Homo sapiens: one gene and its partner. Each later gene encodes a partner of the first gene's protein in a complex. Each region holds a gene or a part of one and is shown on either strand. Other genes may lie near its edges.

Region 1 (7,024 bases):
ACCAGCCTGGGCAAAATAGAGAGATGCCACCTCTATACAAATAAAAATAATAAAATGAGATCTGCCTTAGAGCTTTGAATCAGAGTGGGCCTTGCCAGCCACTGCTTCTAAACTGCTGCTACTCCCTCCCTCACACTTCAAAAGTCTGTCCTTCTGCCAGGCCTAGAGAGCTGTCTTTGTCAGATCTGAGCATCCCTGTAAGTGACTCAATGGCAGTGGAGACTGTCTGTCTCTAGACTGTGCAACCAGTTGTATATGAGCTCAGCCCTCCCTGGTCAGTCACCATATCCAAATGCTTTGAAAAGCTTCAAATGCCTTGCAAATGAGAAGTGGAATTTTTCCTTTCTCAATGCCCTCTGCAGTGGAGACAAGAGCTCAGTCCTGCCCCACGGCCAGTGGATTTCCAATATGGCTGAAAGAGTTGCTAAAGCGGCAAGGGCGTTTTAGCGGGTTAGGATTCTTCTTTCTACTGTGATTTTCATTTTCATCAGGCCAACTCCACCTCCTCTTTTGGCCAACATTTCCTTCGTCTTCCCCAAATGTCACTACCATTCCAACTTTTAGGACGTTATCTGCATGTGGCTCCTTTACATGGGGTCTCTGTAGGGGTGTTTCCCCACATCCACCCCTGCCTGGGAACTTTGAATGAAGGTTCTGACCGTCGCTCCCTGTTGCCTTCAGGAGGAAAGCTCTCCGCAGTCCGACATCCCAGCTCCTCCTAGTTCCAAAGCCCCTGGAAGACCCCAGCTGTCACCAGGTGAGTGGTCCTGGAGCCACAGCCTAGGTCTGGGTGCAGCAGCATGCCAGGCTGCTTCCTGAGTTCCTCTCCCTGCCTTCCAGGAAATTCTGGTTTCTTCTTCTCCCAACATGTCACTCAGCTAATGACCACGCAGCCCCAGAATCCCCCTTTCCTGCACCACCCACCCCAAACATGAAATCAGTGCCCTCTCTCCCTGCCTTCTGCAGAACACTCACGGGGCTTGGGTGAATGCAGCTGGTTCCTGAGTGACTCACGTAGTCACCAAACCCCTTGATCATTAGGTAGGGAAACGATGTCTCAGGAAGAAAAGTTGAAGTAACTATACCTGCTTATCTCTGAGGGGCATGGAGTGGCTGTTTTCAAATGTCTGAGGCACTGTATCTGGAAAAGAAATTGCTCTGTGGAGCCCTGAGGATGAACAAAGAACCAATGGGCAGATGTGAAATGGAAATGTTCTCTCTGAAAGGCTGTTTCCTAGTGTGGAGAGGGCTGTCTTGGGAAGTGCACTTGAAGCAGATTCTGGATAAGCGCTTGGTAGAGACGCAGAGTGAGTGGTTGGCCAGATTCTAGATCAATGATTGCCACACGCGCCTGATCATCAGAATCACTCGGGATGTCCCTTCCCCCATTTTTATTTTGAAAAATGTCCAACCTACAGAAAAGCTGACAGTAGAATACAATAAACATCAGAATATCTTTCACTTAAACTCACCAATTGTTAACATTTTGCACCATGAACTCGCCCTGCTCCATTCTATTTTTCTCCCCCGAGCCAGTTGAAAAGTTACAGACTCGTGACACTTCACCCTACACAGCTGCAAAAACGCAGTCTCCTGCATAATCACAATAGAATCATGGTATCTAGGACACTAAACATTCATATGATAGTATTATATAATGTATATTCCATATTCAAATTTCTCCCGTTGCTCCTGCTCAATGTCCTTGACAGGTTTTTTGTTGTTATCTTTTGTCTAGAGGCTCATCAAGGATCACATATAAACCTAGGATGATTTTGTGAATACAGAGTCCTAGGCTACTGGCTCTGATATTTTAGGACTGGAATGGGGCTCGGGAATTTGTATTTTAGAAAAAAACTTCCCATGTGATTCTAATGATCAGCTAGGTTTGAGATCAGTGGCCTTCTCTGATCATGTACCCCCTATAGTAAATATCTTTATGCATGCTACTCTTACATAAATTAGATTAATATTAGATTGCTTGATTAATAGATTAGATTAAATTAATAAACTTTAGGAAACATACACAAAAATAAAGAATAAGGTGAGGATCAGTGGTTCTAATACTTCTTCCTGTGGCCTCTGGCTCACCTTGCACTCCGATTTTCATTGCTTTGGATCCCGTGGGCTTAATTGACCTTTGGGATCCCTGCTAACCTTGTGGGTTGGTGAGGATATGCTGGTCCTTTGGTAATTACCTATAGGCTCCCTAGAAGCAGAGACTGAGTTTGTTCATGTGTTCATGACCTTCATGCTTCCCCAGGGCGAGATTTTCCCCACAGTTTACTAAGGTTAATAATTGCCCCACAAATTAAAGGGTAAGAGGTTGGGGGCCCTATTTGAAGAGGTTTCATCTGTGTGTGGCAGGGGCTGGCCAAGGATGTTCATTCACCATCTTCTTTTGTTTTACTCCCTACTTTTTCCATTCAGGCCAGAAACAAAAAGAAGAGCCTAAGGTAACATTTTTCCCTCATACTGTTTCAAGTGGTAGAAGATGGGATAGCTTGGGCTATCAACCACAGACATGTCTGTCTGGATTATAGGAAGAGCCCCAAAGGGAGGGTCGAACCAGTTGCTACCTTACAGAGTCCATGAGCTAGGGACCTTCTTAATAGCCTCCTCCACTATCATGCACACACTTCCTACTACCCAAGCTAGTGGGCCAGATCTTACTCAGTAGGAATTCCTGTCCAAGCAAGGGTTGGGCTAAAGGACCTCTGAAGGCCTTTTAGGCTACTGTGAAACCAGTTACTTACTGGCCTCTCCCCTGCTGTATTGGGTACCCCCTGTGCCAAATCACGAAACTGCGGTGATCCAGGATGTTGAGAGAAAGCCTCAGACACTCAGGAGTTCCCTTTGTTTCCTCCCCACTCAGGAAGTGAAGCTCAGTGTTCCCATGCCCTACACACTCAAGGTGCACTACAAGTACACGGTAGTCATGAAGACTCAGCCCGGGCTCCCCTACAGCCAGGTCCGGGACATGGTGTCTAAGAAACTGGAGCTCCGGCTGGAACACACTAAGCTGAGGTGAGCTCCATGCAGGCAGCTGTGAGGGGTACAGTGGGAACCTTGTGCTGGCCTGGAGGAGGGAAGAGGAGGATGGTTTTTGTGATGATGTTCTTTGACTGGATTCTTACTCATTATCCCCACCCAGCTATCGGCCTCGGGACAGCAATGAGCTGGTGCCCCTTTCAGAAGACAGCATGAAGGATGCCTGGGGCCAGGTGAAAAACTACTGCCTGACTCTGTGGTGTGAGAACACAGTGGTGAGTGCAATGAGGGGCATCTAAAGTTACATTTCCACTGAGCCACTTCCTCAACAATTTGAAATTTATCAAGCACCTTCTGTGTACTAGGCACTATATGTGGTGTTGGGGATATGGTGTGTAATAAGTCACAGCTCTGCCTCCCTTTTACCTGCATCCTCACCCCATTTGCAGCAGGGAGAGAGTTTCCCACAAGAGAACAGCAGGCCCAGCAGGGCAGGAGCTCACAGAAAGCCTCCTGCCCCTCCATCAGCTCCCTGCCTGACTGTGTCAAACATCCCATCCATTACTGTCAAGCAAGGTTGGAATGAAGTCATATCATAGCTTAAGGCTCAGCTCATAGCCATTCTTCACCTTTTTTTTTTTTTTTTGAGATGGAGTCTCACTCTGTCGCCCAAGCTGGGTGTGATCTTGGCTCACTGAAACCTCTGCCGCCCAGGTTCAAGAAATTCTCCTGCCTCAGCCTCCTGAGTAGCTGGGATTACAGGCACCTGCCACTGCACCCAGCTAATTTTTGTATTTTTAGTAGAGACGGGGTTTCACCATCTTGGCCAGGCTGGTTTTGAACTCCTGACCTTGTGATCCACCTGCCTCGGCCTCCCAAAGTGCTGGGATTACAGACATGAGCTGGGAGAAGAAGAGTGAAAGAGAATGAGCCTAGAAAAGGGCAGTGTATAAAGCTGTTTAAGGTATCTTCCCCGTTCAGAAAATTGCCTTCAGGAAATACAGCCACTGGGGATGAGACTCCCTGGTGTCTCTGGCTGAGACAAAAGGCCCCAGGATCCTGGGGGTAAGAGTGAGTGTGAGTGTAAGGGGTCTCTTGGAAGTCTGAAAAGTCACTCTAGGTTTTCCAGCTGTCTGTCTTTGGACTAACCCCTTCAGCATCTTTTTTAAAAGATTCTTCCTAGAAGGAGTTCTGCTCTAAATGTGAACTACTTCACTTAAACTTTTTTTTAATTAAAATTTTTTCCTTTGACAGCAGCTTCAATCTATTTGGTGGCTGCACATAGCCAACCCTCTTACAACTCCCCACAATCTTTTGCAATTTAATCCAGGCTCAGGAGTCACTGTTGAATGTTCTTTATCACTATCCATTACTTTTGGAGGCAACAAAGCAGGCTTTCACTTACTAGGAGAAAGAAAACCAGGCGCAGTGGCTCATGCCTGTAATTCCAACACTTTGGGAGGCTGAGGCAACATGGTGAAACCCCATCTCTACTGAAAATACAAAAATTAGCTGGGTGTGGTGGTGTGCACCTGTAGTCCCAGCTACTTGGGAGGCTGAGGCAGAATTGCTTGAACCCAGGAGGCGGAGGTTACAGTGAGCTGATATCATACCACTGCACTCCAGTCTGGGTGACAGAGAGATTCTGCCTCAAAAAAAAAAAAAAAAAAAAAAAAAAAAAAAAAAAAAAGAGGCCTGGTATGGTTTATGCCTGAAATCCTAGCACTTTGGGAGGCCGAGATGGGCCAGATCACCTGAGGTCAGGAGTTTAAGACCAGCCTGGCCAACATGGTGAAACCCCATCTGTACTAAAAATACAAAAAAAAAAGAAAAGAAAAGAAAGAAAAATAAAATGAACTAACATTTATTAAGCATCTACTCTATGCAGGAACACTTACCATTAACCAAGTCTAAATATTTATACATATTTAGAAGAGTACTGCCACAGAGTAAGTGTTCAATAAATGTCAACTACTATTATTGTATGTCATCTCATTGAATTCTTCTAGCCTCAATTTCAGGTGAGGTAACTGAGGTTCTGAGAAGTTACACTGCTTGCTTAGGGACACAGAGCTGGTAAGCAGTGGAGGTGGGATACAAACCTTTCTCTGTGGACTCTCTAGGGCCATTTCCACCTCATTGTATTGCCTCTCAATAAAAATATACCAACGTTCAACAAACAACATTAAGAAGCTAGAACTTATAATGCTCGGTACATACAAGCCTAGCAGCATTTCTAATGTTGATTTGTTAAATTCTATGATTCACATCTGTAGAAACCGCATCCTTCTCCTTCATTTGTGAAGCAAAAGTGACAATAATGTGGAAGAAGTCTAAGATCATAAGTCTAAGATGTATAAGAAATGTTGTTACAGATAAAACAAGTATGGCATTGTGCAGTGGTTTTTGAACTTTAGCAAGTATCAGAATTCCCTAGAGGACTTAAAATACAGATTGCAGGATTCACCTTCAGGGAGTTTCTGATTTAGTAGTTTTGGGATGGAGTTGAAAGTCTGCATTTCTAACAAGGTCCCTAGTGTTGCTGTTAGAGTTGATGCTAAGAAAGCCAGTTTTGACTTAGGGCTCTGTCCCCATCTGTAAAGAAATAATAATGCCCATTCTACCTGTCTCAAGATTATTGTAAGGTTTCAGTAAGATATTTTAAGACTGTATATGATTTTGCAGACCTTTTGGTTTCATTTATCCCAGGGGTCCCCAACCTCCAGGCCACGGGCCAGCACAGGGCTGCACAGCAGGTGAGCTGCAGGTATACTGGCCTGAGCTCTGCCTCCTGTCAGATCAGCAGCAGCATTAGATTCTCATAGGAGTGTGAACCCTATTGTGAACTGTGCATGCAAGGGATCTAGGTCGCATGCTCTTTATGAGAATCTAATGCCTGACGATCTGAGGTGGAACAATTTTATCCTGAAACCACCCCCCAACCCACCACCCACCACCATTCATCTAAAAACTGTCTTCCATGAAACTGGTCCCTCGTGCCAAAAAGGTTGGGGACTGATTTACCCAACCATCCAGTATTCATAAAGAGCATATAAGCTCTACACAAGGCACTGATCACAAACTTTATGAGTTTATATCCCAGGTTCTACTTTGACATTTCGCTGTTTCCTTTAGTGATGTTCAGTGTTCACTTGGCAGGAAATTGGGAAAATTAACAGGCCCTTTATTATTTCAGGGTGACCAAGGCTTTCCAGATGAACCCAAGGAAAGTGAAAAAGCTGATGCTAATAACCAGACAACAGAACCTCAGCTTAAGAAAGGCAGCCAAGTGGAGGCACTCTTCAGTTATGAGGCTACCCAACCAGAGGACCTGGAGTTTCAGGAAGGGGATATAATCCTGGTGTTATCAAAGGGTAAGTGCTACTCCAAGACTATAGAAACAAATTTACATGTTAGCAGAAACAAGGTCAAGGGCAGAGAGAAGAAAATATCAATAATCTACAAACAAAACTTTAGCCAGTGTTTTCAACCCCCTTCCTAGCATCTAGCTGGAGGGAGCAAAGTTGAGCACTCAGACTTTCCCTGTCTATTGCTCTAGTAGCCAGGAAAGCAACAAGAAGCTGAGTTGTTTTGTTTTTGTTTTTGTTTTTGAGACAGAGTCCCCCTCTGTTGCCCAGGCTGGAGTGCAGTGGCACAATCTCGGCTCACTGCAACCTCCCCCTCCTGGGTTCAAGCAATTCTCCTGCCTCAGCCTCCTGAGTAGCTAGGATTACAGGCGCCCACCACCATGCCTAGCTAATTTTTGTGTATTTAGTAGAGATGGGGTTTTGCCATGTTGACCAGGCTGGTCTCAAACTCCTGGCCTCAAGTGATCCAACTGCCTCGGCCTCCTAAAGTACTGAGATTACAGGCATGAGCCACCGCACCTGGCCGGCGATAAACATCTTGATTATTAAAGAGGAGTATGCTTTGGAAACCATGGATTCTCATTCCCAGAGGTAACAAATTGGGCTGGAATCACTTTGCCTTTGCATCAAGCTGTATGACCTTCTGCAAACCATAGTTCTTTGAA
Region 2 (6,930 bases), on another chromosome or scaffold:
GCACCAAAGTACCACTGGGTGAAGCGCCCAGCTGTGGCCACGATGCCCCCGGTGATGAGGACTGCGGGGAGAAGTGGGTCAGGCACTGTGGGGCTCCCGTCCCGGGGGCCTGGGCCACCCCCCTTCTCTACCTACTGTGGGCCACCAGGCCACCCAGAGCTGCCCCCTACCCATCCCCACAGCACAGTGACAGGGTCGGGGACACCCCCAGGAGGCACCCCTCTGCACTGGTGAAGAGCAGAGCCTGTGGCGCACGGGCTGGCGGAGGGGGTGCTGGACATGCCCGGGCTCTGGGTCCCAGGAGTGGCCAAGGACAGCCCGACCTGCAGGCCCCAGTGGGCTCTGGGACCCCCAAATGGACCCCCTTGTCACCATGAGTCTTTGTTTGATGCACTGAAAGCTAACAGGCCGAGTGTGGTTTCTGCATCTTCTTGGGGGAGTGTCTTTTTCCCCCCGATACGGAGTTCCTCTTAACCCGTCAGCGGTTTTGCCTTAATTTCGGTTTCGTCTGATATGGCTATTTCTGCACATTTTTGGGGGGGTATTGTCCAATATTCCCCCTTACTGTTTTTTTTTTTTTTCGAGACGGAGTCTTGCTCTGTCACCCAGGCTGGAGTGCAGTGGCGCGATCTCGACTCACTGCTACCTCCGCCTCCAGGGTTCAAGCAATTCTCCTGCCTCAGCCTCCTGAGTAGCTGGGACTACAGGCGCCCGCCACCATGCCCAGCTAATTTTTACATTTTTATTAGAGACAGGGTTTTCACCACATTGGCCAGGCTGGTCTCGAACTCCTGACCTCAGGGAATCCGCCCGCCTTGGCCTCCCAGAGTGTTGGGATTACAGGCATGAGCCACGGCGCCTGGTCCTTCCTACTATTTTATTTCTTTTTTTTTTTTTTTTTGGAGACAGAGTCTTGCCCTGTCACCCAGGCTGGAGTTCCGTGGCGTGATCTCAGCTCACTACAACCTCCACCTCCCAGGTTGAAGCGATTCTCCTGCCTCAGCCTCCCGAGTAGCTGGGACTATGCGCGCCTGCCACCATACCCGGCTAATTTTTTGTATTTTTAGTAGAGACGGGGTTTCACTGTGTTAGCCAGGATGGTCTCGATCTCCTGACCTCGTGATCCGCCCGCCTTGGCCTCCCAAAGTGCTAGGATTACAGGTGTAGCCACCTTGCCCTGCCAGCCATTCTGTTTTTGTCTCCACATGGTCTTGTTGGAAGATTTCCTATCCTTGGTTTGAGCCCAGCTACACATTAACTCTCTGGGTTTGTCTGTCTGCGTCGGAGGAGGGGAGGGCAGTGTCCTTGAGTCTACTCAGCCAATTGTCCATGCATCTTTGGGGACCGTCCTGGTCCCGAGCCTGCCATCCGAAAGAGGGTGCAAAGCTGCCGCTGGTGCCACCAGGGAGGTCTGAGGACGTATTCTGGCACCCAGCCACATTTACAGAGCACCTGCTGTGTACAGGGGGGACTCTTTGTCAAGGCCCTGCTGTCTCCGGGCCAGCTGCCTCCTGGGGCTGCACGGTCTGGAAGGACCTCCCCAGGCAGGTGGCATTTGAATTGAGAAATAAATGAGACAGCCATGAGGCTCTGCAGAAGCAGCAGCTTGTGCCGAGGCCCTGGGGCACGCTCAGGAGATCTAGGAACAGAAAGGAAGCACGGCAGCTGGAGGAGGGGGCCGGAGAGCCGGGAGGCCAGGGCGGGCAGTGCAGGGCGTCCAGTCTGGCTCTAACTCTTCGGGCCAGGAGCCCCTGGAGGGTTTCAGCAGGAGGCCAGACTAGAGCCCAGGTCTCCTGGCTCCCAGCTGGGTGCCCTCAGTCCGTCTACTTCCTGTAGGGAGTGCGGGGCAGGCAGGGTGAGTCTCACGGGGCAGCTCTGGGGAGAGCTGTCTGAACTGACCCACCGACTTCTTGGCCGCTGACTCGAAGCAGGCGGTCACTTTCCTGGGCACAGGACAGGCTGCAGGGCCCCGTCCTCCAGCCCTCCCACCCTGAGGTCTCTGCTCCCACTCCAGCTGCCACGCACCCTCCAGACAACAGGGAGGGCGCTCAGAGCCCCAGGGGAGTGGTGGCAGCGGGCCCCTCCTCCTCACCCTCAGCCCCCAGGCCCTTCCCAGGCACTCCTCCCCCGGTGCAGGTCCTTCCTGGAGCTGCTGCAGTGGTGCCTCTGCCCTCAGACCTCGCCTGAGCCCAGCCTCACCCGTGCTGGGCCAGACACTCCCTGGCCCTGGTCCCGAGAGGGTCCATTTCCAAATGGAGTCCGCTGCCCTCACCAGAACCTCTGAGCAAATGCACAGGAGGGTGACTGGGGGCTGTGCCATCCCACCCCAAGAGCAAAGTGCCTGTGCAGCTGGGCTGGGCAGGGCCGTCACTGGGTGGTTTCGGCGCCTTGTGAAATCTCAGACCGCCTCCAGCGCAGACTCCAGATGAGAAGGGCTGAGCCCCAGGGCATGAGCCCATTCCCCACCCCAAGCCCAGGGAGAGCGACCTCCAGGCCAGCTGGCTACCGAGGGGCAGGGGAGCTTCTCCCGATGCCCAGGCCGGAGCCCCCACTCGGGGGCTTCGGGGCGGTGACCCCGGAAACCACCGGGGCTGAACCGCCTCTTCCCCTGCGCTGCAACTTCCTCCTTCGCGGAGTCGGGGGACCGAGAGAAGGGAATGGGGGAGGGGCGCCGCGCTCCGCAGGGTCTGCAAGGGAATTACTGGGGGTCTCAGAACTCCTCCTTCCAGCCCGCGGCCTGAGGGTCCCGCCCCCGTTCCCCGCACCCTCCTGGCCTGACCCCGGCCCGGCCTGGCCCGCCTGGCGCCCCACTTCCCCACCCTGTAAGTAGCCCGAGGTCCCGGCTGGGGTCTTGGGACACCCCTCCAGGCTGCAGCCTCCACCGTCCCTGACGTGCACTCACTCAGGCCGGACGCCAGCGCCTGTTCGTTGGCCCACATGGCCCACTCGATCTGCCCCATGGCGACACGAACCCGGCTGGGACACTGCTAGGCGCGCACTGCCGCCCCTGCGCTCCCGGCCGAACCCCGCCCCGCCCAGGCCCCGCCCCCAGCCCCCCAGGTGACCGCGGCTGGGCGGAGACCCGCATCTGTAGGGTGCAGGGCTGTCCCGGAGCCTTCTGCCCCCGCCCTCTCTAGCCACGCCGAGGCATAGGAGGGGCCCTGCCCGGCAGCCCCAGCCCAGGCGGGGAGTTCCTGCGCTTCCCCAGGGCTTCCCAAACTTCAGCTCTCAAACACTGACAAGTGCCCCTGCCCAATGCTCCGGACCCAACCGAGGGTCCCGTGTCAACCAGGCGTCTATTAATAGCAGGACAAGGTGTGAAGGTCGGCTTCCTGAGCAAATCGGCCTCTCCAGAGCCTTGGGGGGTGGGGGAGTCACCCCTACAGCCCGGGAACACCTCTGCACCCTGATGCTACCAAGGACAAGGGTGGCCTCCCCATGGGGACCAGAGGCCCAGCCCCCATTTCCTCCCCCTGGCTCTGGGCTGGCACAGGCGTGGCCTGGGTCAGACACTGCAGGGGGCCTCCCGTCACCAGGTCACTGAACTGTGACTGAGACTCGAGGGAGGGGACAGGATGTGTACAACTGGGAAAGCACAGAATGCAGGGACGGCCCCGTCACGTCCGGCCTGGGTACGGGAGGCAGGGGCTGGCGTGGGGGTGGTGAGCCCAGCGCCCATGGGAAGACTTTAGACCTGGGGTTGCTCCTGAGGGTCCCACCTGAGCCAATGTGGGGTTTGAGGGGAGCCCCTCTGTGGCTCTGCCCAGCCTGCCCCTCCCCCAGGCCCTCATGGGGCACACCTGGACTCCCTGACAGGTGCCAGGGTCACTCAGAGCAGGAACCCCGGGATGCTGGTTTACGAAACAGAAAAACGGCGGAGGCCGGAGGCAGCAATGCTGGTTTATTCCCCATGGCCACCGGGGCCGCACTGGTGCCCACTCCTGCCACCATTCCAGCCACACCCAGGCCGTGGGCAGCCACCCTCCGAGACACCTGGGCCGGGGGCAGGGTCTCAGCAGAAGCGCCGTGGGCAGCCACCATCCGAGGCACTTGGTGGTTTCCTGAGGCCCAAGGAGGCTGCTCCCAGCACGGTGACCCCTTCCCTGGTCCGCTGGAGGGACCACCTCCCCACTGAGCTCCTTTCTCAGAGAACTGGGCATAGCCAGAGCTGGGGTGAGAAAGCCCTTCAGCCCTGCTGCACCGAGGCTCTGCCAGTTCTCATACCCCCTCCCCATCCCATCTTGGCAAAGCGCTGGTGCAGCTTAGGGCAGCTGAAGCACTCGGCGGGGACCTCTCCTGACACCTGGGCGGCCGCAGGACTCCCTGCACTGCCCCACAGCAAGCTGCCCATGGGCCCGGGGTCAAGCCACCACCCACATGTCCCAGGAGTCCGGCCAGCCCACCACATCCGCTCCCTAGCTCCGGCGAGGCCACCCCTTCTCCAAGCGGCATGCGGTCCCTGCTGAGGCAGTCAGGCAGCTGGCTTCGGCAGGCCGTCAGGACCCAGGAGGTGGGCGCAGGGGTCATCCAGGATTTGAGGCCCTGGCCCCACCTGGGGATAGAAATCCATGTCAGGTCACCAGGAATGGCAGCGCCTCATCCTGTGCCCAGCATCTGTAGGGCCGGACACAGGAGGGTAGCGGTGTGCCCCCGCCCTTCCTGTGGGTCCTGGTCAGAAGGTAAAGCGCCTGAGTGGTGACACCCACACGCAGCTCCTGCAGGCACAGCCGCCCCTGCCAGCTGCGAGCCCCCTGCCCTGGGCACTGCTTCTGTCACAGGGGGGACAGAGAACCACAGAGCCTGGGAACAGGCAGCCCCTGAGAGGAAGGTGGCGGCAATGGCTTGGGCGGCCGTGATCACTGGATGCAAGCTTGGCCCTCGGAGCAGGTCAGAGGGCAGGAACTCCGGTCTGCTGGGGTGGTTGGGGTGGGGGGGTCCCAGGGACCCCAGCAGCCCCCACCCCAGGCGCTCCCTATTCAAGGGTCTGATACTCCCCACCTGTCTCCCTGGGAGCCTGTGTCAGACTCACCCTCCCACCCTCAGCGCAGCCCTGCTGCTCTGAGCATCACCAGTGGCCTGTAATGTCCACTTTGAGAGCAAATGAATGGACAAAGGCGTTCTGGCTTCCTGCCTGAGACACGGTAGGGACAGGGAGCCGCGCTTAGCCTTTAAGGGCCCTGGGGGCTGGGCGGGCCCCCCTGGCAGGAAAGGAAACCCCGGGGTACTGGGTGAGCCCCAGGCCTCACCTGAGTGACAATGATGTATTTGACCCCACCGGGGGTCGGCTCCATGGCCAGCGCAGCCTGAAGCTCAGCTGAGAGAGGGGCCGGCCTCACCTGCAGCCCCTTCAGAAACCTGGAAAAGCAGGGCAGGGGCACGGTGAATGCATCCGTTTCTCTAAGCGTCTACAACAGTCTACAACAGGCAAGTCCAGAGATGGGAAGTGCATTCCTGGCCGTCAGGGCTCAGGGAGGGGGAGACGGCAGGTGGCTGCTGTGGGGACAGGTTTCTTTTAGGGGTGATGAAAAAGTTAAGGAGGTGGCTTGAGGTGGTGCTCACATGACCCTGTGAATGTCCTCAACACCGCAGGATTATATGCTCTCGAATGGCTGAGACAGGAAATTTTAGGTTATGTGGTAAACAGCTATGCCCAGGCTGGACCCACATCTGGCCAAGGGTGCTGCCAAGCCCCATGGGGTAACAGCTCAGGGAAGCGCCCAATTCAAGCTGGTGCGTTCGTCACCGTGTTCTGCAGAACAGCGGAAGCCTGCAAGCCCCACCCGGAGCAGCAGCCACGAGCCTGGTGCTTCCCAGGCGGGCAGTCCTGGGGTGTGGGTCTGAGTCCACCCCACAGGGCAGGCCCCTGACCATTAGAAGGTGTTATTGCTCCCACCCGGGACAGACGCACATCCCCACACGCTTCCAGACACCCTTAAATGGGAGGCGCCTCTCACATTGAGAATAAGACACCATGAAAACACGGGAGGGAAGAAATCAACAGCCCCGGGGCGTAAGGAGGCTGGGCCAAGCTGTGCACCGAGGAGGGCGTACATGGGGGCTCTGTGGCACCCCCACAGAGCAGCGCAGGGGAAGAGGCGGTTCAGGGCCAAGCTGTGCACCGAGGAGGGCGTACATGGGGGCTCTGTGGCGCCAAGATGCAGCTGCCGGACCCCACCCAAGAAAAGACACCCAACTGCCGGGGCGGGGTCAACACCCGGCCGCCTTGACTGGCTCTAACTCGCTTCAGTAAGAAGGAAATCAGGGGCTTTGACTCCTTTCCTTCAAAATGTCGGACACTTACGCACACATCTGGGAGTGCAGGCGTGTTTCCTAAGCCACTGTTCTATAGAATAAGAGCCTGCGGGGTCCCGAGCTGCAGGGGACGCTGTCACTCAGGAGGTGGGAGACCCTGGGCGTTGCTCACACACGCGTGAGCGGCCTCTCTTTCTTCCCTGTGGACGTGGGCTGTGGGATGGCTCTATGGGGACACCCTGCCCGTGGCTCCCACACTCGGGGGACTGCTGCCTGCCCTGGGACTCCCTGTCTCAGCGCCACAGCCTTCAGGTGCCTCCGTCTCTTCCGACCAGAGTTCCTGGCACCATCTCCCAAAAAGGAGGAGGGGCGGGGTCCACACTCACGTGTCTCCATTCGAGCCTGGGGGAAAGCCGTGCCACACAGCAGCCACAAACTCAGCCACAGTGTCGTCCAGGGTGAAGATCACGGCATTGGGGCCCGCGTCAAAGGTGTACGCCACCTGGAACCCACAGCAGTCACCCTGGCTATTCACGTGGTGCCTGACCCTTGTCTCCCCAACCCTCTGGTCTGCCAGGCGGCCTTGGGCTCTCCAAGAGCTCAGTCTAGGCCCTCAGGGCCACACTGGAGTGGAGCTGTGACCCCAAGTGCCTGGTACTTGACACGTCTGCCTGTGAA

What was found.
Region 2: NCF2 (region 1) and CYBA share a complex: the UniProt entries of both Homo sapiens proteins name them as parts of the phagocyte NADPH oxidase complex.

Annotation. Positions count from the first base shown.
Region 1 is NC_000001.11:183,559,437-183,566,460, reverse strand, and holds part of NCF2 (neutrophil cytosol factor 2), read left to right. Parts: intron 1-681; coding exon 682-757; intron 758-2,430; coding exon 2,431-2,456; intron 2,457-2,875; coding exon 2,876-3,027; intron 3,028-3,154; coding exon 3,155-3,266; intron 3,267-6,187; coding exon 6,188-6,365; intron 6,366-7,024. UniProt on the Homo sapiens protein: Subunit of the phagocyte NADPH oxidase complex that mediates the transfer of electrons from cytosolic NADPH to O2 to produce the superoxide anion (O2(-)).
Region 2 is NC_000016.10:88,648,054-88,654,983, forward strand, and holds the start of CYBA (cytochrome b-245 light chain), read right to left. Parts: upstream 3,001-6,930; 5' UTR 2,961-3,000; coding exon 2,903-2,960; intron 62-2,902; coding exon 1-61. Other genes in the region: MVD (diphosphomevalonate decarboxylase), read right to left, coding at 4,472-4,552, 5,247-5,355, 6,639-6,754. UniProt on the Homo sapiens protein: Subunit of NADPH oxidase complexes that is required for the NADPH oxidase activity that generates, in various cell types, superoxide from molecular oxygen utilizing NADPH as an electron donor.